Linked DNA regions of Homo sapiens: regions 1, 3, 4 and 5 are each linked to region 2. The links come from fine-mapping of genetic effects on gene expression. A gene starts in region 2. Each other region holds a variant in brackets. All regions are shown on one strand. Distances are between the middles of the regions.

Region 1 (4,507 bases), 51 kb before region 2:
CTCACTCTCACGGTGGTGCAAGAGCCTCTCTGCATGTTACGCTGTTAGCCCCTCATCTGCCTCACCCCAGACCCAGCTCTAAGGCAGGAAGCGGGAGGGCAGCGGAAGGGGAAAAATTCCATCCTAGCTGCAGGGCTAAATCTAGAATTTATTCCAAGTTAAATGTAGATGGAATGCTAATATGCCAGTCTTAGCCTGCCTTAGGCAGCGAGTCCGGCTCAAAGACCAATGACCTTGCAAGCGGAGAAGGCCATCGCTCAGAGCCCCCCATGGACGCCGACGCCGACGCTGAGGAATGTTCAGCCTTTCTCCCTCCCACTGTAGCCCCCTGCTTCACCAGCCTAACGGAGCCTCTGAGCAAAGGTGGCCCCTAGAGAGGCACAGAATAGCGACTCCTCAGAAGGGGCAAGTCTAAATGTTTCTTTTTCTTTTTTTTGACTTGAGACCTTGCTTCAGAAATAAGCTTGAGTCCTGAGGCTTCGCATCGCTCCTAGAGTACAGGGCAGGAAGTGTGACTTCAGAGCATGGGAAAGTAAGTCTCTCCTCTTCTTTGTGGAAATGTTCAACTTCATGGTCCACTCTGGCTGCGGAGTTCATAATTAGAGCTTTATACCCTTTGCCTAATGTGAACTGCAGATTCCTTGGGGGAGTTAGCGTACATTGAACCATATTAGTTCTTACTGAGAGCTGGAATGCCTGCCCCAACGCTGTGTGAAACAACCTCACACCCCTGCGGGCGCGACTTGCGTCCCTTCACTGCTGAGATGAGTGTTAGGCCCTCCTGACCTGAGGCAAAGCTCTTTTCACCATCTGCATCTGATAATCAATTATCATGTGTTATCCTGTGACTTCACTGTATTGTTTTACTGAAATGTATTAATGTTCAATGCAACATGGAATCCTGGACTAAAGAACATTAGTGGAAAAACTGGTGCCGTCCGAATAAGAGTCTGTAGTTAATAGTATTGTAACAATATTGATTACTTTTTCTTTCTCTTTTTTTTTGAGACGGAGTCTCGCTTTGTCCCCCAGGCTGGAGTGCAATGGTATGATCTTGGCTCACTGCAACCTCTGCCTCCCGGGTCCTAGTGATTCTCCTGCCTCAGCCTCCTGAGTAGCTGGGATTACAGGTGCCCGCCACCACATCCAGCTAATTTGTGTATTTTTAGTAGAGACGGGGTTTCAACATGTTGGCCTGGCTGGTCTGGAACTCCTGACCTCAGGTGATCCACCCACCTCGGCCTCCCAAAGTGCTGGGATGATAGGCATGAGCCACTGTACCCAGCTAACGACACTGATTTCTTAGTTTAGACAAATGTACCCTGGTTGAATAAGATGTTAACATTAGGAGAGGCTGGGGGGCAACTATATGGGAGCTCATTGAGCTATCTCTGCAACTTTTTTATAAATTTAAAATTATTCCAGGCCAGACGTGGTGGCTCACGCCTATAATCCCAGCACTTTGGGAGGCCGAGGCGTGCAGATCGCTTGAGGCCAGGAGTTTGAGACCAGCCTGGGCAACATGGCAAAACCTCATCTCTACTAAAAATACAAAAATTAGTGGGGCATGATGACACATGCCTATAATCCCAGCTACTCTGGAGGCTGAGGCAGGAGAATCGCTTGAACCCAGAAGGCAGAGGTTGCAGTGAGCCGAGATCGCACCACTTCACTCCAGCCTTTTAAAATGCACTTTTATAAATATCTTTGACAAAATGCCTTTAAAATGTCTTTTCTGGTGTGTGTGTGTGTGTGTGTGTGTGTGTGTGTGTGTGTGTGTTTGAGTTTCCTTCAGATAACTGAGCTTGTTTTCACATGAAGCGAAAATCTGCTCATGCATATTGTTTGGGAAAGTCTTGTTTTCTTAGAGGTCTGGAGGCTCTAAAAAATACCTAC[G/A]GCTTCCTTCTATTCATTTTATATATTTTGGTTCAAAGATTTCGTAATTCCATCCCCACCCTGGCTATTCCCTAGGGTTATGAGAGAAAAAGAAAAATATTTTGTAAAGAGCAGGGATTGTATTCTTTTCTTGGCATGTTCCCCTACAGAGCACTGTGTATACTTAAGCCTCTGTATAAATAAGTGACACAAATATAGATGTTATGGGGGAGGGTTCATCTTGCCTGATGGCTTTCTGGGGCCCAGCGCAACTGTTTTGTTCACGTGTTTATGAATTGAGGCTAGCTTGGGCTTTGAATTAGGACCAGGAAGAGATGTAAACACCCACCATATTGATTGTCACACGTGACCATTTTTTGGAATTTGAGGAAGAAGATGATGAAAAGGGAAGGGGAAAAGAAGAAAAACTGGTGGCCGGGCAGTGTGGCTCACGCCTGTAATCCCAGCACTTTGGGAGGCCAAGGTGGGTGAATTACTTGAGGTCAGGAGTTTGAGACCAGCCTGACCAACATGGTGAAACCCCCGTCTCCATTAAAAATATAAAAATTAGCGTGACGTGGTGGCGGGCGCCTGTAATCCCAGCTACTCAGGAAGCTGAGGCAGGAGAGTCGCTTGAACCCAGCAGGCGGAGGTTGCAGTGAGACAAGATCACGCCATTGCACTCCAGCCTGGGCAACAGAGGGAAACTCTGTCTCTAGAAAAAGAAAAAATAGAAGAAGGAGGGTGGGCACTGTGCCTCATGCCTGTAACTCCAGCACTTTGGGAGGCCCTGGCGGGAGGAATGCTTGAGCCCAGGAGTTTGAGACCAACCTGGGCAACATAGCGAGACCTTGTCTTAATTTAAAAAAAAAAATAGAAGAAGGAGATAGGGTTGCAAGAGCCCTAAAAAAGGTGAAGGCTCAGTCGAAAGTGCATCCAGTTTCCTGGGGATCCTGTTGAAATGCAGATTCGGATTCAGTAGGCCTCTAAGGGCTGGGATTCTTCCCGTCAAACCAGCTCCCAGTGAGGCTGCTGCTCCAGGGACCTCACTGGAGAAGTAAGGCCCGGCACAGACTGTACCTTCAAAGCAGTAGTGCAATGGCACTCTCTGTCACTGCTGCTACTCTTGACTTCTGGTTCTCTCTAGCACCTCCCAGATCACTGTTACCGCCTGGATCACTGCCAGTGCTTTTTTTTTTTGGGACATGATGTCAAAAATGCGAAAGCTTTACAAAGCTTCCTTCAACATTGCATAGGGGAAATCTTCTCTTCCAAAGTCTCTCCAGTAGCTTCTTTTTCCCTTCTACCATGATTTTTTATTTCTTGGTCTCATTTCCAGTCCTTTCTCAGTTTGAATCTCTCATTCATTCAATTCTCTGGCCTCCTCTCTCTATTCAAACTAGTTTTATTTCTCTAGAGATTTTTTTGTTTTTGGAGATGGGGGGGATCTCGCTATGTTGCCCAGGCTGGTCTTGAACTCCTGAGCTCAAGAAATCCTCCCACCTCAGCCTCCCGAGCAGCTGGGACTACAGGTGTGTTTCATCATTCCTGGCTAATCTAGAGATTTTAATGCATAGTCTGCACCAAGAATAGTTTCCACCTTTTCTTTTTGGTCCCACCCGGGAACGAAATTAGCATCTCTTAATGGTGGGTAAAATTAGAGTAGACTCAGTGTTTAGTTTTCGTTCATTTCCCAGGCCACTTCTTTATGAAGTAACCTCCATCACAATGTATAGTTTCTAGAAAGTCTGAAGGAGCACTGATGTTTTCCCTCGAATGCAGTTTCTATGTCACCGTGGTAAAGAAGAATTTTCAGGCTTGCAGTCAAGGACAGCCTTTCAAATTCTCTTTGGATGAAACTAATCCCCAAGGCTGCCCAACCTCCCTGTAACTAAGAAGTTTACAAGGCCAAATATTTGATGCACTGGCCTGAAAACAATGATTTGGATGTCAGTCACTGACGACACATCATAATGCTTACCACCACCCTTCCAAACCCACTCCGGACCAGTAAACAGTGATTATGCTGACAGAGCTGAAACAAACCTTTACATCCGTAAGTATCCATTTAACTCCTGAAACCTTAAAGCTTGGCTTGGTGATCATCTCATTAGATTTTTCTGCAGGGTGCCGATACCAAAATGATACAGTATTATTTAAAAGTGGCTTATGTACCATTCTATCAAATGAAACTGTCTATAAACTGGTATTTGCACAAATTTATGTTGTAATGGTAAATGATACTTATCATGAAGAGCCTGGAGCACTCACTTAACTGCCTTCTGAATCATGCAAGAAAGCTGCAATATTTGTATAATATTTTATGGTGTTAAATATATTTGAAGTTAATTCTTGGGAAATTGGCTATCTATGCCTAATAATACCTTAAACTGGCAGATTTATTTCCAGCTTATCCCGCATTTTCAGCAAGAACATTTTATAAACCATATTTTAAAACTGAAGGAATTGAGATGAAGGGACTTGCCCAAAGTCCATAGGTGGTAGTAAGTGGAAAATCAGGACAAGAACCCAAGCCTTCTGTTTTCTTTTATATGGTTCTTTGTTTGCTTAACCAGAACATCCATTCCTCTTACAATTACTAATAGATAAAGTTAACTGAGTGTAATCCTGG
Region 2 (4,507 bases):
GATGGAGTCTCACGCTGTCATCCAGGCTGGAGTGCAATGGCACGATCTCAGCTCACGGCAACCTCCACCTCCCAGGTTCAAGTGATTCTCCCACCTCAGCCTCCCGAGTAGCTGGGATTACAGGCACCCGCCATCATGCCAAGTTAATTTTGGTATTTTTGTGGAGATGGGGTTTCACCATGTTGGCCAGGCTAGTCTTGAACTGCTGACCTCAGGTGATCGCCCCACCTCGGCCTCCCAAAGTGCTGGGATTACAGGCATGAGCCACCACACCCAGCCTTTTTTTTTTTTTTTTAAATAAGCGTTTGACCTCTCTTGATTCAGGCATAGTAACCACAGATGGGGGAGAGAGTGGGTTTGGGAGCCAAGATAGGCAGAACACCAAAAAGAGAAGAACATAGGCAAGGAAAAAAAAAAGAAAAGAAAAGAGAAAAGCAAAGCAAAACACGAAACACATGGGGTAGCAGCCTAGATTAGTAGATAGAATTGAAGTCCTTAAAATCGAAGGCACAGTGAGGGAAACCATAAGGTCTTTTATTACATGTAAGATATTCAATATCTTCCAAAGGACTGCCTATACTAAGCATAGAGGGTGATTTGGCTTAGGTGAACACTGCACTTTGGTAAGGATTCAGGTAGCTTTTTGTTGTCACTGACTGTATCAACCTTAATTTAGCAAATGGCCTATGCTGTGCTGTTTGTAAATGGTTTCTTTTTTCTATGTGCCTAAGCAAATGTTTTTTAGTGAGTAAATGACAGTAAATAAATCTTTGTAGAACAATCCTCGTGAAGATTTTTTTGCCCTTCTTCTCCTCCTCCTCCTCCTTCTTCTGCTTCTGCTTCTTCTTTTTCTTCCTTTTCAATACTACGTTTTTCAGGCCAATGATAAAACAGAAAATGTCTTGACAAAGTGAGCTCTCCAAATCATATATCACAAGGACGTAAGAGGAATATCACTTAACAAGTTGATAAAGATCCTGCCATCAATATGAACGAGGGGGAAGGGTAACTGTACTTTAGATTGTGGAGGTGGTTCAAGTCCCAGAACTAGAATCTTAGTAACTCAAAGAATATTGCCAAGAACACGTATATAGTTATTCTCCTAGATTTATGTGACAATGATGACAAACTCCATATTCTGTTGAAATATATTTGGATGGGCCGGGCGCAGTGGCTCACGCCTGTAATCCCAGCACTTTGGGAGGCTGAGGCGGGTGGATCACGAGGTCAGTAGCTCAAGACCAGCCTGGCCAAGATGGTGAAATCCCGTGTCTATAAAAATACAAAAATTAGCAGGGTGTGGTGGCGGGGGACTGTAATCCCAGCTACTCCGGAGGCTGAGGCAGAGAATTGCTTGAACCCGGGAGGCGTGAGCCACCATGCCCTACCTAGAATGGTATTTTGAAAGCTTTAATAACACCAGTGCTTTTCTAGAGATTGTGCATGCTGTGAATTTTAGACTTATGAAAAGACCTGGACAAAACAGCTGTTTGTACACCCGGACATCTGTTTTTACTGGAGAAGAGGAATTTCTAATGCAGCTGGCAGTATGGTAAAAATCCAAAGGGATCATGTTTCACAGACGCCTCCACGGGCTGACTTGTAATTTAAAAAGTGACCTGAACTTTCTACTGGATGTCACTGGATCCCCAGAAGAAGGTTCATCACAATTAGGTAAGAACCTGCCACGATTCATTTTCCGATTAGAGTGCTTTCTGGCATGCCTCTGCAAGGTGCTAGGAGCACAGGGCCAGGGTATACACAGTTGAGAAGATGGGGGAAGGTCTCATAAGTAGATGGGGAGCGAATGCAAACAAACCTTAGGATGGTGGGGGGGAGGGGAAGCAACAGTAGGGACTTGGGTGAGGAAAGAAAAGATCAAGAGGAAAAGCAGGGCACTGGCAACAACTTGGGGGGTGGATGGGGAGAGAGGAGGGGAATGGCTGTGATGAGGAGGGGGCGATGAAAAGGAGAGAAGGGGTGCGAAAGCCACCTCACGTGCAGGACGCACGAATCAACGATTAGAGATGTAAAGCGAATTGGGAGGGAGGGACTTAGTTCTCTGGAGCTCCCTTCTGCGTTTGCAGAGCCTGGCCCAGCGCTAAGGGGGTGTGGTGCTGAGCTCAGGGAGGTGGGGGTGTGAGACGGCGGCGGCAGGGACACCCCCGCCCCAGTCCAACCAGAAACTTGGAGCCGGGGAGACGGATCTGCAGGCGGGCAGGGCGAGGGCGGAGCGAGCGAGCGATGGGCGGGGCGGGGGCGGAGGGAGGGCGAGGAGATACAGGCGGAGGGCGAGGAGATACAGGCGGAGGGCGAGGAGATACAGGCGGAGAGCGGCGCTAGGACCCGCCGGCCACCCCGCCGGCTCCCGGGAGGTTGATAAAGCGGCGGCGGCGTTTGACGTCAGTGGGGAGTTAATTTTAAATCGGTACAAGATGGCGGAGGGGGACGAGGCAGCGCGAGGGCAGCAACCGCACCAGGGGCTGTGGCGCCGGCGACGGACCAGCGACCCAAGCGCCGCGGTTAACCACGTCTCGTCCACGACCTCCCTAGGTACGGGCCAGCGAGGCAGAGGCCGCGGGGCCCTGATGGGGAGAGACGCTCGCTGCTCGGGCTCGCGGGCACCGGCCGCAGGCGGCGGGGTCGGAGTCCGCGGCTGGTTCAGGTCTCCTCCCGCCGCCGCGCCTGCCCGCCGGGCCTAGCCTCAGCCGCGCCCCGCGCTCCCGCAGCGCGCGGCCTGAAAGGGCGGCTCGTGGGCCGCGGCTCCAGTAGCTGCTGGGAGAACCAGTGGCGCGCGCGTCTGCGACCGGCCCGGCCCCCTGCCCGCCAGCCCGCCGCGTGGCTGCCGCCGTGTCCGCCCCGACCTTAGGGGGCGGCCTTGAGCCGTGGCCGCCTGCCCGGGGCGCGGGGAGGTCGGCTGCGGCTCCGCTCCGTCCGGCGAGCTCCGGACGCGGCGGGGCGACCCGTTAGCTGGTGGGCGTTCGCTGTCCCTTACGCGGACAGGGAGGAAGGGGTGGCCAGGGCATGATGGGCCCCGCGGAGGAGGAGGTCGCGCGGGGAGCAGACACCTTGCTGCCGGGTCCGAAAGCTCCTTAGACACCCTTCCTGGAGGGAACCGCAGTCCGCAGGCCAGGGCTCTGTCCCCGGGCTCGCGTTTCGGGGCTCCTCGGCTCCCGAACCCATTCGCGCGGGTTGTGCGTGGCTAGGGTGCAAGTCTAGATTTTCGTGTCAAACTGGGGTTATGAGCCGTTTACGAGTCACTTGGACGATAGTAAGGCCTGATCACTCTGAAAGTGTCTGTAGTGTGAAGTCACCTGATCCTTGGCTCCCTGGTTTTGCTGAATGTGAGCTCCTACTGTACGTGTACCAGGAGCGCCCCTGCCCCCTCGAAGACGCAGTTGCGTTGGCAGCGCAGTGTATCCCTCTCACTCATAACACCCCTATTTATAGGAGTTTAGCGTTTGATCTCTCACTGTGGTGCGAATTGATCGCATGAAATCCTGATTGAAAATTTTGATGGTACTTAAGAAAGGCATAAAGTTTTTTCAAAGGCTTATAAATAGTAAAAGCCTACGATTTGGTAAGTACGGCCAAGATAAGAGTTTATTATTAAATACAGATACGAGCTCGTGTCTTAAGATTTCTTTTTTTACGGTGTGTAAAGGTTTTGCTGGATAAAATGTAAAGCATTTTGGTATGATGTTAACCACAAGGACTCACTTTAATAGGAAAGTTTATTTGAAATATACTTCATCATTCCTGGTAGTTCTTGGCGCATGTCAGAGGTGATGACAGACTGGAGTTTTGCTAAGGGAAGAAGAAAAGGAAATAAAGCTTATTTTATTATTGTCTGCCAACCAAAACGCTTGACTGTTTGTACAGTGGTAGCACTCTGTAGAATAAAAAACTACCAAAGAAGCAGCTTCGCCTTAGATGTGTGCTGGTTGGATTTCTTAAGTAATTAATTGTTTTGGAATGCGGATGGATTAATTTCGCTCTTTTGGTTGGACCCTAGGGGAAGAAGTGTGTGTTCTTTTCTTTCTTTCTCTTTCTTTCTTTCCTTTTTTTGAGGTAAGAGTTTTAGATGCAGTTTCAAAATATTCTATGTATTTACCTTATTAGAAGAAACATAAATTTATACTTCAGTTATGGTTGTGAACGTTGTTGTGCTGTGGTATCTTGAGAAGAGATGATACTCTTCAGATTGTTGTTGAAATAGGGCCCACCATTTATTATTTAATAAATGCTTTTGTCTGCTACTCATAGGTTTTTGTCCTTTGTTTTTTAGGACGGATCAGCAAGACCTTCACTTGATAGCCATTCCTAGCAAATGATTGCCTAAAACAGTCCCTGTACCTGCTAATTTGCTCCGAGTCACTCATTAATGAGTTAAAAACTAAATGAGCTTGGTAGGATTTGTGTTTAAAGTGAGAAGAAACAGACTGAATGAAAAGGACTCATCTATTTTTGACTGTGTAGAAACTCTTTGTCTCCCTCTGCTTCCTGG
Region 3 (4,507 bases), 82 kb after region 2:
GGGTCAGAGTCTGTAATGATTTTTTTCTTTGAGGAAAGAAAATATAAACAATGAATGATTTTCAAGGTAAGGAAAAGAAGTTTGGAAGTGGTGCTTTCGGAAAGCAAAAGAAGTTTCTTCCTAATATTGGCAAGCAGCAATGCAGGAGAAATGCTGGATGGTAGACAGGTCTTCATTGCCTTCCATGAAGATGGTAGTGATTTCCTGATGTACTATGAGGAACAATCCCGTAGGGATTTCTTACCAAGGAAACTTTGACCTTTGTGTTTTGGAAATATTAATTAGTAAAGCAAAGCGCCATGAACAGAGAACCATGCTCCGTCGTAATCTTTTACCTCGAACCAGAATTCAAAGCCCCAGGCTGTGAACTCTTGCCTGCAAGTATCTGCTAAGGAAAGCCATTTTGTGTATCTGCCTCCGGTGTGCTGGAATTACCTGTGGACCGCTTATGGATGTCATTAAGATGATCTTCGTGAAATACTTGAACATCATGTCAAGGACCAGAATGAAAGCTACGGTTATTAATGACGAACGCTATAATAGGCATTTGAGATGCCATTTTTGGGCTCATGAAATATTGAGCTTATTTTGAAGATCTAGGATATGCAGGTCCATGTTTGTTTTGGCTATAAACTTGAAGACCGAAGAAGCAGACCATTTTTTTTGAAGAAAGTTGATTGGATATTGACTTTTCTTGTAATGATGTTATTTTATAAAGTGACCCACTATATTAATTTGGATTTTGTGTTTACTCTTTAGAGAAATGCTCTATTCAGATCCGATTGGGAAGTTTATGTTTGGATATTTATTCTATTTAAATTTTTATCTCAATCTCACTACTTGATGTTTCTTTGATATCTTCTAATAGAAGATGGATGCAAAGCTATCGCAACTTCACTTTTAAGAAAAAATTAGCTATTTTAAAATTTTGGATCATTTTCTGCAATATAATTTTCAATAATTGTACAATATCTTCTTTTGAGAAATATTCATCTCTTAAACAGCATTGATTCTAGGATTTTGGAGGTACCATTATTACAAAACAATTAAATGGAAGAATCTAAAGTGTATAAAATCATTTTCAGTATAGTTTAGGTAAGGTAATCAGCTAGTCAGAGATCTGTGCTGTGTCAACAAACCTTGTCTAAATTTCTTTGCATTTCTCTTTTCTTTTGCTTCAGAGGAGTCCCAGGAAGGTGAGAAACCTACAGTCTCAAATTCTTGTAGTCTTAAACTCTTTAGCTTCGAGGCACTCTGATTCATTCTCCTAACAAATCACTTCATGTTTTAGGTGTTTTCCAAACTGTTTGAAGTTACTAGACGTCGAATGGTTCACCGTGCTCTTTCATCAGCACAGCGACAGAGACTGTCATCCAACAATAACAAGAAGAAAAATTAGACAGTATTTTTAACCTTTTTCTCTATCTGAAGTGTTCACACTTACACATGTAGGACAATAAGCAGGACCGTCTGGGCCGGTCTGCATAAATGCTGTATACATACCAGATTTGATGCTGCATATAGGGTATGGAATTGCACATCCATCTCATAGGAATTGTAAATGGTTTGAATAAGAGGAAAGTAATTTTTGTTGCATTATAAAATGTCTAGTAGCATCATAAGTTTTTTTGAGAGAAGCATCTTTTTATTTCCCATATTCCTGGTTATTTTCATCATTGCTTTGAATTGAATTTTTATATCTATTTTTATATGTAACTCTTTTTTTACCTCATGTTTTTGTTTGTTTTGCACATTTCTCATACCACAGGTATTGAAGCCCCTGGGTGATAATTTGATGGAGGAAAACATAAGGCAGTCTGTAACAAACTCTATCAAAGCAGGCCTGACTGACCAGGTGTCTCATCATGCCAGATTAAAGACAGACTGACAGTTCATCTCCTCACGGACTCCACTCTCTTTTTTTTTCATGCTTGCTGTACAATGAGAACTCAAATAAAAATAAACCAAAGTTTACAATCAACTGTAGAAGTAGTTTAGTGTAACTGGCTTCACAGATGGCTGCCACAGAGTGTGAAGATTGTTTGTTAGTTTTAAGCATTCTTTTAATGGCTCCTAAGACATGCAGATGGACTGAGGAGCATTGGTTAATCATGCACCTTTGTGCCATGTTTAACTCTTTTATTTCTTTTTACTTAATCTAATGTTAGTGAATTTGTCTTATGTAAAAGGATATTTCAGGGAAATATTTTCAGAAATCTATTTAGAGTCTCTTTAACACAGTGTCCCATTGAAATTTTAATTTTTAGAGAATTTATGAATCACTGTTTCAAGAACCAGATTGGAAAGACAATGAAGCCTTTATTGAGCCACTACATTAAAAGTATATATTGCTTTACTGCCTTCAATACCAGTATTACATCAATGCATGTATCAGAAACTTCACAGAAATTACATGGCAACTCTTGTAGCTAAGAAAGTAATTCTGAGGTGTACATTTGTCTTGCCTTTTTAAATTTATAAACTTGCCCTAAAAGGAGATGCATATCTGGGAAACTGAACTGTCTTTTTGCAGTTTAGCCTTCATGTATATAAAATATGCCATTAATTTTATTGGGGAAGAAATTCCATCCAAAAATGTTGCCTACAGCTATGAGTTAAGAGTGTCTGTACAGTGTGTAGCTTTTATTTTCTAAAATCACAGATAGGGCATGTATATGACTTATAAATATATAAATACGATTTTGTATTAAAAGTTTTGTAGTTTATGGCAAAATCTGGTCCTGTGGTAGGCTAAATAAGTAC[T/A]GTCCCTGTGAAAGGAATGTTTGTGGCTCATGTCAGTGTGTGAATGCATAGACAATTTGAAGTTTTTGATATATTTGTGATATTTATCTTGAGCACTGCAATCTCACCCCCCCCCCGCCCACCAAGGGAATTCAATGGGAATGTTTATTGTGACTTTGTCCTCTGTTGCATTTTAAAGTTATTTCCTGTAATTTATTTTCAGTACATAATTAAAAATTTGTTGTATATATAAAATGAAACTTGTGATTCTTTTTTAAGGAATTTTTCAAGTATGTATTCCACTTCATAAACCACATTTGTTTATAGTGAAAAGAGCATGAGCAGGAAACACCCCAGTTGAGAGCTCTAAGGCATTGTACCTCAAAACTAAGCTTGTAAAAAGTTACTTTTCTGTGTCTGTCTCTATAAGGGAAAACCTATGATTAGCCTAGTTGTAGATGGGGATTGTTAATTTCTTTCTCTCTCTTTTTTTTTTTTTGGTGGTATATGTAAGGCTAGCATTTTTTCAGTACTTTTGTGGTCTTCTTTGTGAACACCGATTAAAGTACCTAGTTTTGTTTGTTTCTTTTTTGAGACGGAGTCTCTCTCTGTCACCCAGGCTGGAGTGCAGTGGTGCGATCTTGGCTCACTGCAACCTCCACCTCCTGGGTTCAAGTGATTCTCCCGCCTCAGCCTCCTGAGTAGCTGGGACTACAGGTGCGTGCCACCATTCCCGGCTAATGTTTTCTATTTTAAGTAGAGATGGGGTTTCACCGTTTTAGCCAGGATGGTCTCAATCGCCTGACCTTGTGATCCGCCTGCCTTGGCCTCCCAAAGTGTTGGGATTACAGGCGTGAGCCACCGCGCCCGGCCCTTAGTTTGCTTTTTAAGCGAAGAGAATGCAGGTGTTGAGTTGCATGTGTGAAAACTCTGAATTTACTTTGGTTGATACATCTTCGCTCCCACTCCCATTCAGATTCTGTTTTTATATGGATTGTATTTGTTTTCATCTGTATTAAATTGCTAACTTATCTGTTCTTAAAGAATCCACCTGAAAAGTGTCTTTTTATTTCTTCTGCCACCCTGTTTTATGAATGCTGTGGACTGTTTTTTATGAATGAAAAAATAATTTGTTGTATAATAGCAGATTTTCTGAAATTAAAGACAGCTTACTTTTAAAAAGTTATAAAATCTAGACCATTGGCTTTCTTACATTTCTTGTCAGAAAAGAGTGCTTTACTCAAAGAAGACAATTCTCTACAGGATTTAAGTCCATTTCACACTTTTAAGCTTTAGCCTAAACATTCATGTCCTGGATTCCCTCCTTTCCTCTAACTTGACCAGAATGGATCTGCGCATCTCAGGTTTTTTCCATTCGTGTGATAGTCGTGGAGTGAGGATGAAAATTAGCTTGAGTTGCTGTGCATCTGGTAGCCATCTTCTCACTTGGCCAGAGATTACTCATCAAATGACTATTGTACTTGGATTCTGTTGGGAGCCTCTGCCATAAAGAGAATGCGACTTTGGGGAGTCTTCCAGTTATTGGTTCCTGTCAAAGCTAGATTGGGGGTTTCCCAGGCAGCACAGAGAATTGCTCCCTTACCTTCTCTACTGAAGTCTTAGATCCTAGGAACTCCTGTCTTTCAGATTTACATTTTGCTGGAAGTTAGACCGAGGAATTGAGCTGCCCTTAATGTACTCAGTGAAATACAACTTTTATATCCTTTTAGGATCGTGAAATCTGCAGCCAAATGTATCAGCTGAA
Region 4 (4,507 bases), 120 kb after region 2:
AAAGCAGGGATGGGCAAGTTACCGCTCACAGGCTTAATCTAGCCCACCACCTGTTTTTGTATAAATAAAGTTTTATTGGAACACAGCCATGTTCATTTGTTACAGATTGTTTATGGCTGCTTTCATGCTATAACGGCAGTTAAGTTGTCGTGATAAAGATTGAATCACAAAGCCTAAAATATTTACTATTTAATCTTTTACAAAATAAATTTGTTGACCCCCTGGGATAAAGGATGCTATTTAAAACTGACAAATTAAGTAGTAAAAGTGTATGTAACAATTCTAAGGTAAACACTAAAAGAGTGTCAGGTGTAGTGGTTCACATGTGTAATCCCAAAACTTTGGGAGGCTGAGGCAGGCAGACTGCTTGAGCCTAGGAGTTCCAGACCAGCCTGGGCAACATGGCGAAACCCTGTCTCTACAAAAAATACAAAAACTAGTCAGGCGTAGTGGTATGTGCCTCTAGCCCCAGCTTTCCGGAAGCCTGAGGTGGGAGGATCGCTTGGGTCTGGGAGGTGGAAGCTGCAGTGAGCCGTGACTGTGCCACTGTACTCCAACCTGGGTGACATAAGGAGACCCTGTCTGAAAAAAAAACCAAGAAACAAAACAAACAAACAAACAAAAAAAACACTAATAAAAGAGTGATCAGGAGTAGAGAAAGGGAGGAAATAGAATGATTATTGATAGCAGCAACAGGAGGCAGCCAAATGCCTAGGCAGACAAGGGTGGGTCCCCAGTGAAACCCAACCTTCAAGCCAAAAACAGCCTGAGGGCTGAAAGACTGGACTGCTGCTGGTCCAGGATGAAACCCACAACCCAGAGTGAGAACTTCTGTTCTTGTTTGCTCTCCCTTTCCCGATTGATTCTTTCTGAACAATGCCTTTTAACCAATCAAATGTTGCCTTTTCCAATATTACCTATGGCCTGCCCCTCCCCCATTCTGAACCCATAAAAGCCCCGGACTCAGCCACATTGAGGGGACTCTCTCGCCTTCAGGTAGGGAGACCCCCCCCCCCGCCGCCATGTCCCCTCTCCATTGAAAGCTGTTTCATCACTCAATAAAACTCCCCACCTTGCTCACTCTGATTGTCAGCACATCCTCATTCTTCTTGGCACAGGACAAGAACTGGAGAACTCAAGAAGTGCGCAAGTCGGGGCTGGCCCCAGGCAGGCCAAGTGGGAGGGCTATCTCCTGCAGCAGGTAGTGTGGTTAAGCAAGGCCCAGGCAGGGTGTCACTGGCTAGAGGTCCCCGGCTTGCAAAGTGACAAAGATGAAAATCCTGTGTCATTATTTTTACTGATCACAGGAGGGAACTGATAGATCTTACGAATATAGAGTTATAGGGTATCTGATGAAGTCTGAATTATAAAAGTAGCCTCTAGGATAAAAACACACATGTTTTTAATTATGAGAAGAAACATACAACACAAATACAGCAGATTCTATATAATAAAATATTTACAAAGGCAATAAAAACAAAAACATAAAAATGAGACACATTGCTTTTATCAATTAAACAAAAAGACTTTTAGATATATCACAAGACAAAACCCAATTTTATGACATATATAAGAGAGTAACTAAAATTTAAAAATTCAGGAAGACTGACTAAAAAAATGGCTAAATGCCAAATGTTGAAAATAATATCAACATTTTCAAGCAAAAAAATAAGGAGAAATGGGAAAAAGCATTTTAATATTAGGCCATTTTAACGTATATATGTAGGTCTCTGAAAGAGCAAATGAAC[C/A]AAAATAAATATGGGTATGACAGATGTAAACAATGTAAAAGATATACATAATGGAATTATACTAAACATATTGTTCTCCAATCTGCTTTTCCAATTAATATGTATTAAAGATATTTCCATATTATTAACTATAGCTCTATCTTAAAATGAATTGCCTTTTAAGAAACTGCAATAGGCTGGGAGCAGTGGCTCATGCCTGTAATTCCAGCACTTTGGGAGGCCAAGGCAGGTGGATCACCTGAGGTCAGGAGTTCCAGAACAGCCTGGCCAACATGGTGAAACCCTGTCTCTACTGAAAATACTAAAATTAGCCAGGTATGGTGGCAGGCGCCTGTAATCCCAGCTACTCGGGAGGCTGAGGCAGGAGAATCGCTTGAACCTGGGAGGCGGAGGTTGCAGTGGGCCGAGACTACACCACTTCACTCCAGCCTGGGCAACAGAGCAAGACTCTGCCTCAAAAAAAAAAAACAAAAAAACCCAAAACAAAAAAAACCCCACAAAACCTGCAATAAAGTAATAAAGTAGAGTTGACCCTTGAACAACATGGGTTTGAACTGCAAGAGTCCACTTATACTTGGGTTTTTCTAAACCAAATGTGGATGGAAAATACAGTATTCTTGGGTAGTGAAACCCACCTATCCAGAGGGCCAATTTTTCTTATATGTGAATTCTGCTGGGCCAGGCTGCAAGACTCAGATTTTGGTATACATGGGGTTCATGGAACCATCCTCTGCATACCAAGGGATGACTATATATTTTTTGAAAGTTTACAAATGAGATTTACAAAGAGTTGTGGAAACTAAATAAATTTGAAACTTCACATTCCTCTTGGCAAATCATTGCTTACTTGGATTTTGTTTTTTAAAATCATGTTAAGCTTTTTGGGGGGGTTTATATTTTGTGGTACTAACGGAGGCAATTGTGTCATCTCAGCAAGGCATAATGCCTCATCTTATTTGCAGGGTAAAGTGGGATTGAGGCGAACCATGAGCCATGGGGTAGGAGGACAGATCTGACCCTTGGGATAGCTGGAGTGGGAGCAGAATGCCCAGTTGAATGCTGTGTGGCAGCAGGAGAGTAGAGAAGGTGATGAGGATCAGGTAACGAGGCAAGCAAAAAAGATGCCAAGTGATGGTGATGTAGACAATGATGAAAATGGCATTAGCTATCATTCTGAGAATTTATTACAAGCCAAATATTGGATGAGGCACGTGACCACAGAACTCAATATAATACATACAAATCTGAATAGATTTTCACAAACCCTGTGCATGTGTTGCTTATGTAAATTAAAGAATTCAAGTCTATTTCCCAAAAGTGATATTCCTAGGCACTGTTTTTCAGCCTTTCAGAAACTATGGTGTATTTAACTGTGTACAAGACAGATAAGGCTTAAAAAGTGAAATATTTTATGATGATCATGTGATTTTTTTTTTTTTTTTTTTTTCTGAAAACGTTAGGATTCCTAGATTGGTTTCCCTAGGAATTGCCCTCTGAGACAGACATTTGCACTCAGGTACTTTTTGAGGAGCAACAGCTATGAGCCTTGAGGCACCCAAGGCTGGGCAGGAAGAGGAAGTGAACTATGATGCAGTAGTAACAGAGGTCTCAGCCAATCTGCAGGGAGCTTTGCAGCTGGGATGACCCTTTAAACATGTCCTGAACTGAATCAAAGGGGCCATGCCTTCATACCTTTGCAGCCAACAATCATTATATGTGAACTCCAGTGGGGAAAGAACATAACCTTTGGCCTAGCACAAATCCTGGGTAGGGGACCCCCTTGGCCAACACAATTCCTATAAGCCATCAGCAGCTGACATTCCTGGAAGATGATGGAATGAGTGTCTTGGTCCTGACAGGGACATCTGAATGGTCTACCACATCATCCACTAGAGTCTATCTTTTGGTTTTTTGGATCCGTTTGCTCTGCATAGTAAGTCTGCTCCATCTGGGAAAGTTCATCCAGGAACCTGTTTAATCTCTTTTTTTGGGGAAAATTATGATAAGAGGGTTAAAAGGACAAACAACATGCCCTGAAGCTGTGGCTGGTCTCACACCTGCAGAGGTGCTCATTGTCTCCTTTTTCTACCACCCATTGTAGATGCCCCTCAGCCTTGGTCTGCTCCTTTCCTCATCTAGGTGGCTTATCTGGTGAGGTGACCCAGACTCTCACTCTTGAGAGCTCCAAACTCCAGGTCACCATGCCCTCTTCAGGCTGTGGCTGTTGCACTTGCCCATTTATTATTAAAATTGGAAAAGAAGGTACCAAGAGCCACCCAGTGGATCACTTGCATGTCAAACACATTCTTCTCTGTCCTCACTGTGTGAAAGTAGCCTATCTCTTCATGGTAAGAGTCGACTACCCTTGTGAGAATTACACCTCCTTTCCTTCCTGGTCATCTCTTAACATAAGGAGGCTAGCGTGACAGGCTATTTGTAGTTTAAAGTTCGACTCTTGCTGTCACCTTTGGTGGAGATGTTGCCCTCCTGGGAACTGGGACCTCTAGGTATACAGAGCCTAGAGTTGGAGGATGGAAAACACGAATTCTCTAAGTAGGTCACTGGAGATGATTATAATTGGGGCTCCTTCCTCCCTTTCATTTCCATAACCATGTATTCTATCTTTTGCAAACACAGCACCATATAATGGCTATGGATTTAGGGCACATGCTGAGTCCTGGAGAATGCCACTCCAGTTGCCCAGGGAGCATCTCCAAGCTTGTACATCTTTTGCACTTTAAAAAGGTCATTCCATTGTC
Region 5 (4,507 bases), 32 kb after region 2:
GTTGTCGGAGGTATTTCCCCAAGCTATTTGATTATCATATTTGCTTATAAACTAGGTAAGGGCAGGGCCAGGCATAGTGGCTCATGCCTGTAATCCTAGTACTTTGGGAGGCTGAGATGGGTGGATCACCTGAGGTCAGGAGTTTGAGTCCAGCCTGGCCAACATGGGGAAACCTTGTCTCTACTAAAAATACAAAAATTAGCTTGGCGAGGCATTGGGCATCTGTTGTTCCAGCTACTCTGGAGGCTGAGACAGGAGAATGGCTTGAACCCAGGAGGCAGAGGTTGCAGTGAGTCGAGATCTCACCACTGCACTCCAGCCTGGGTGACAGAGCGCTCTGCCTTAAAAAAAAAAAAAAAAAAAAGGTAAGGGCAGATGTAAGACTCCTGAGTAAAATGCTTAAATTTCATTCATTCAGGAAATATTTACAAGGAACCTGCTAGGCTAGGTGTCAGGCACTGTTGTAGGTGCTGGTAGAGAATGGTTAACAGGGTGATTGGGATCCTTACTTTAGTGGCACACTCATTCTGTGGAGTGGGAGATATCAGGTACACATTTAAACGAATGAAAAAAGGTTGTTTTAGGAATTGAAAAAAACTATGAATAAACCTGTTTCATTAAAGTGTTAAGGAAAGGGATCTGTGATTTAGATTGAGTGGTCAGGGAGGGCCATGCTGAGGAGATAACATTTGAGCTGAAGAGCTGGATGATGGAGACATAAGCCATGTGAATTTCTAGGGACAGAGCATTCCAGATAGGGGACAACACAGGACAAAAATTCTAAGGTGGGAAACAGGGTTAGCTTCATCAGGGAACAGCAAGAAGGCCAGATTGTCCAGGCTTTGGGAATGAATAGGAGTGTGTTGTAAGATGACATGTGCTTTATAAGGCCCTCTGCTATGGAGAGGAGGCTGGGCCCAGATCGCATACGACTATAGAAGCCATGGTAAGGTATTTAAGGGCTTTCTTCTTTTGTTTGTCTATTTTCTGCTTATGATGGGAAACTAAGTGGTAAATTGGCAATCCAAGAGGGGAGACATTTAATAAATAAGTACTTACATAAATATTCAAGTGATAGATTAAAATTTGGGGAGTATAGAATGACTAAACTTGGTTGGAAGCCTCAGGGAAGATTCTTGTTCCTGGAAAGTGTCTTTTAAGCTGAGATTTAAGGAGTAAGTGTGAATTTATTAGGAAACAACAAAGGAAAGAGTACTCTAGGCAGAGGAATATTAAAGCAGAGTCTAGAAAGAGCTTAGCAGCATGAGGATCTGATGAAAGGTTAGTTTGGCTACCTAGTTTAAACCTGGGGTTCCCAACCCTAGGGCCGTGGACTGGTACTCGTCCGTGGCCTGTTAGGAACTGGGCCGCACAGCAAGAGGGGAGTAGCAGGCGAGCGAGCATTACTGCCTGAGCTTCGCCTCCTGTCAGACCCATGGTGACATCAGATTCTCATAGGAGCGCGAACCTTATTGTGAACTGCACGTGTGAGGGATCTGGGTTGTGTGCTCCTTATGAGAATCTAACTAATGCCTGATGATCTGAGATGGAACAGTTTTATCCTGAAACCACTGCTCCCCCTTCTGTGGAAAACTTGTCTTTCATGAAACCAGACCCTGGTACCAAGAAGGTTGGGGACCGCTGGTTTAAAGAGAAGAATAGCACCAAAAGAGGCAACAGAGATTGGCGGTGAGTACGGGACCTTATAGAGCATGTGTAGGATTTTAGTCATTAGTCCTCTGTAACAGTGATTTTAAGGAGGGTAACCTGGTCAACTTTACATGTAACTATATTATTTAGTTGCTACTCTGTGGAGATTAGATTGGATTGGGTAAGAGGACAAGAGTATTAATGAAGGGAAACCAGTTAGATGCTACAGTGTGAGGTACTGTGGCAGTGACAAGTGCAGGAATATTATCAATAGAGATTCAGAAATGAAGACAAATTAAGAAGGTGGTTATTGATTAGATTTAGGGGTAAGTAAAAGACACGTAGACGTATCTCT[A/G]TATGTCAAGGACAGCCAGCAAGTCTGTGCCAGAGCAGATGGGTGGATGGCAGTGTCAGTACGCAGCTACACTGGTCAAGTGAAAATCACCATAGCATTTTGGCATTTCAAGGGGAAAATAAAAGCTTCTCCTGTTGGATTGGTTATTTTGAAATTACTGTTAACTTACACCTATGGTGCTTACTGCGTAGCATACATATTTCAACTCATTGAATCCTGATGACAACCCTATGAGTTAGGTAATGCTATGCCTGTTTGACACACACCCATTTTCCAGATGAGAAAACAGGTGCAGAGAAGTTAAGTGACATGCATCGAGGCAGTTTGCTCCCTACTTCATGGTCTTAAACCACTAATTAAGCTTAGAAACTTATACCGTTTGCATCCTGTTTTGTTATTTATCTGGACCTACCTAATGAGACGTTAATTTAGAATTTAACTGTATTGCAACTTTTCCTGGAAAGTTCACTTTTTGCATGCATTCAAATAGCATACCTGACTATTGCTATATACCATTGATACAGGCAGTGATAATGTCCCCTTTAACTAAATATTGATTGCTTTTACTTTCAAAGATTCTCCTTTGAAGTGGCTTGCTCTTTATAATGCATTGTCATTGTTTTCAGCACATTTTGAAATAGTGCTGTTGACTTTGCTATATACAGTTAAAGGTGCCTCGTGATGTGGAGGTAGAGGCTCTAATAGTCTTTGCAAATCAGATAAGTGAGATGCTTCTTTTGGTAATAAGATTAAAAATCCACTAATGTAGTTATATAATCTTTGCTCTGTGAATATTGGTTATGTGGATAAGGTATTACTGAACTGTTCACTAATAATGTACCACGCCTTAGTGGACTGGCTTTCTCCTCAGAGTAGGACAGTCATTGATTGCATTGAAAACAGTGGATACCGTATGTGTCCTTAGAGTGGAAACTGACACTTAGTAGACAGGCTCAAGGAGGGGATCTCTTAGAAATTTTGATGTGGGAGAAGATAAGGTCCCCAGGAGTAACTAGTTGCTACGTGGGATCAAGCAGTTGGTAGAGAAGAAAGTCAGACAAGGTATGTGTCCTCTGAAGCTAGGTGTTTTTTTTAAAGAAGAACAGAAACCTAGACTTTGGAAGTTTATCTCTGCTATTTACATTCTCTGTACTTCTTCGTCACTATTCAGTAAAGTTATGTCTGCAAAGGTTACCTTATTTTAATGTGTTGTGGTGAACAAAGGAAGGGTTTATATGGCTGTTTTCGGGAGCTATAACAGCTGTAGTGTTTGGTGAGAAAGAGCTCCAGTGGGAGATGAAATTCTGAGATATAAATGCATCTCACTGACTCTTCTTTAATGAAACATTAATCCTGTGCTTTGCTTTAATGAGGAGGCTGTAGTAGTACTAGGTTACTGTTATTAAATTAGGGACTCATTGTAAGTATCATTTTTGGAAACTTGTTAGAACCCTAATTTTCCCCTTTAAGTTTCAGAATGAAAAATAACATGAATAATTTTTTTTTGTTTGTTTTTTGAGACTGAGACTCACTCTGTTGCCCAGGCTGGAATGCAGTGGTGCAATCTCAGCTCACTGCAACCTCTGCCTCCCAGGTTCAAGCGATTCTCCTGTCTCAGCCTCCCAAGTAGCTGGGACTACAGGCGCCCGCTACCATGCCCAGCTAATTTTTGTATTTTTAGTAGAGACGGGGTTTCCCCATGTTGGTCAGGCTGGTCTTGAACTCCTGACCTCAGGTGATCTGCCTGCCTCGGCCTCCCAAAGTGTTGGGATTACACCCACTGCACCCAGCCACATGAACAATTTTAATATATGTTTTTAATGTTTGTAAAGTAGAGTAATGTTTGTGAATTTTCTAGGTGATGCTTACAGGGAAAATTGGGATTTGAAGTATCAGGTGAAATTGATTTTTCCCCTCTTTAGTTTATGTGTGCATACAGTTGGAAAAGTTATTTACAGAATAATACAGGGCTCAGAAACAGGTGCTGTTGACATGAACATTCTCAATGAAGTTAAGACTTCATTGAGATAGAGGCCATATTTAGTATTATTGTTTATCTGTATGTATAATGGTGTATGAGTCCATTTTCATGCTGGTAATAAAGACATACTTGAGACTGGGCAATTTACAAAAGAAAGAGGTTTAATGGAATCAAAGTTTCACGTGGCTGGGGAGGTCTCACAATCATGGCGGAAGGTGAAAGGCACATCTCACATGGTGGCAGATGAGAAGAGAGCTTGTGCAGGGAAACCTCTTATAAAATCATCAAATTTCGTGAGACTTATTCACTATCATGAGAACAGCACAGGAGAGAGCCTCCCCCATGATTCAGTTACCTCCCACTGGGTCCTTCCCACAACATGTGGAAATTGTGGGAGCTACAATTCAAGATGAGATTTGGGTGGGGACACAGCCAACCATATCAAGTGGGAAATCTTATCAGCATTCTTTGTCCTGTCACAGAGGGAGTGAGAAATCCAAAGGAACATTATAATGATCTAT

Which allele goes with the higher level. Positions count from the first base shown, and alleles are read on the strand shown. Sizes are in standard deviations (SD) of each study's normalised expression. Not every link is listed here.
In carriers of allele T in region 3, the expression in prefrontal cortex of the gene that starts at base 2,423 in region 2 tends to be lower than with A alone (small effect, 0.32 SD a copy in CommonMind).

The links. PIP is the estimated chance that this variant, and not a neighbour inherited with it, causes the effect.
Region 1: its variant is the best candidate, but not a certain one, in a credible set for the expression of ATL2 in tibial nerve (GTEx, PIP 0.53).
Region 3: its variant is the best candidate, but not a certain one, in a credible set for the expression of ATL2 in prefrontal cortex (CommonMind, PIP 0.58).
Region 4: its variant is the best candidate, but not a certain one, in a credible set for the expression of ATL2 in whole blood (INTERVAL, PIP 0.73).
Region 5: its variant is the best candidate, but not a certain one, in a credible set for the expression of ATL2 in whole blood (TOPMed, PIP 0.58).

Annotation. Positions count from the first base shown.
Region 1 is chr2:38,426,601-38,431,107 of GRCh38, reverse strand. No RefSeq gene overlaps it. Among named protein-coding and RNA genes, the nearest start is that of LINC01883, 2.4 kb to the left of the region's middle. The variant G/A (reference allele first, on the strand shown) is at 1,897.
Region 2 is chr2:38,375,189-38,379,695 of GRCh38, reverse strand. It overlaps ATL2 (atlastin GTPase 2), which reads left to right and starts at 2,423. Exons shown (of 13, transcript NM_001135673.4): 1 at 2,423-2,553. The coding sequence starts at 2,436. RefSeq lists silencers at 2,004-2,053, 2,124-2,283, 2,504-3,003 and enhancers at 2,254-2,503, 2,330-2,829, 2,830-3,331.
Region 3 is chr2:38,293,375-38,297,881 of GRCh38, reverse strand. It overlaps ATL2 (atlastin GTPase 2), which reads left to right. Exons shown (of 13, transcript NM_001135673.4): 13 at 1,769-3,928. The coding sequence ends at 1,888. Among named protein-coding and RNA genes, the nearest start is that of ATL2, 82 kb to the left of the region's middle. The variant T/A (reference allele first, on the strand shown) is at 2,764.
Region 4 is chr2:38,250,962-38,255,468 of GRCh38, reverse strand. No RefSeq gene overlaps it. Among named protein-coding and RNA genes, the nearest start is that of CYP1B1-AS1, 120 kb to the right of the region's middle. The variant C/A (reference allele first, on the strand shown) is at 1,749.
Region 5 is chr2:38,343,625-38,348,131 of GRCh38, reverse strand. All of the region lies in intron 1 of ATL2 (atlastin GTPase 2), which reads left to right. Among named protein-coding and RNA genes, the nearest start is that of ATL2, 31 kb to the left of the region's middle. RefSeq lists a silencer at 2,839-3,039. The variant A/G (reference allele first, on the strand shown) is at 2,006.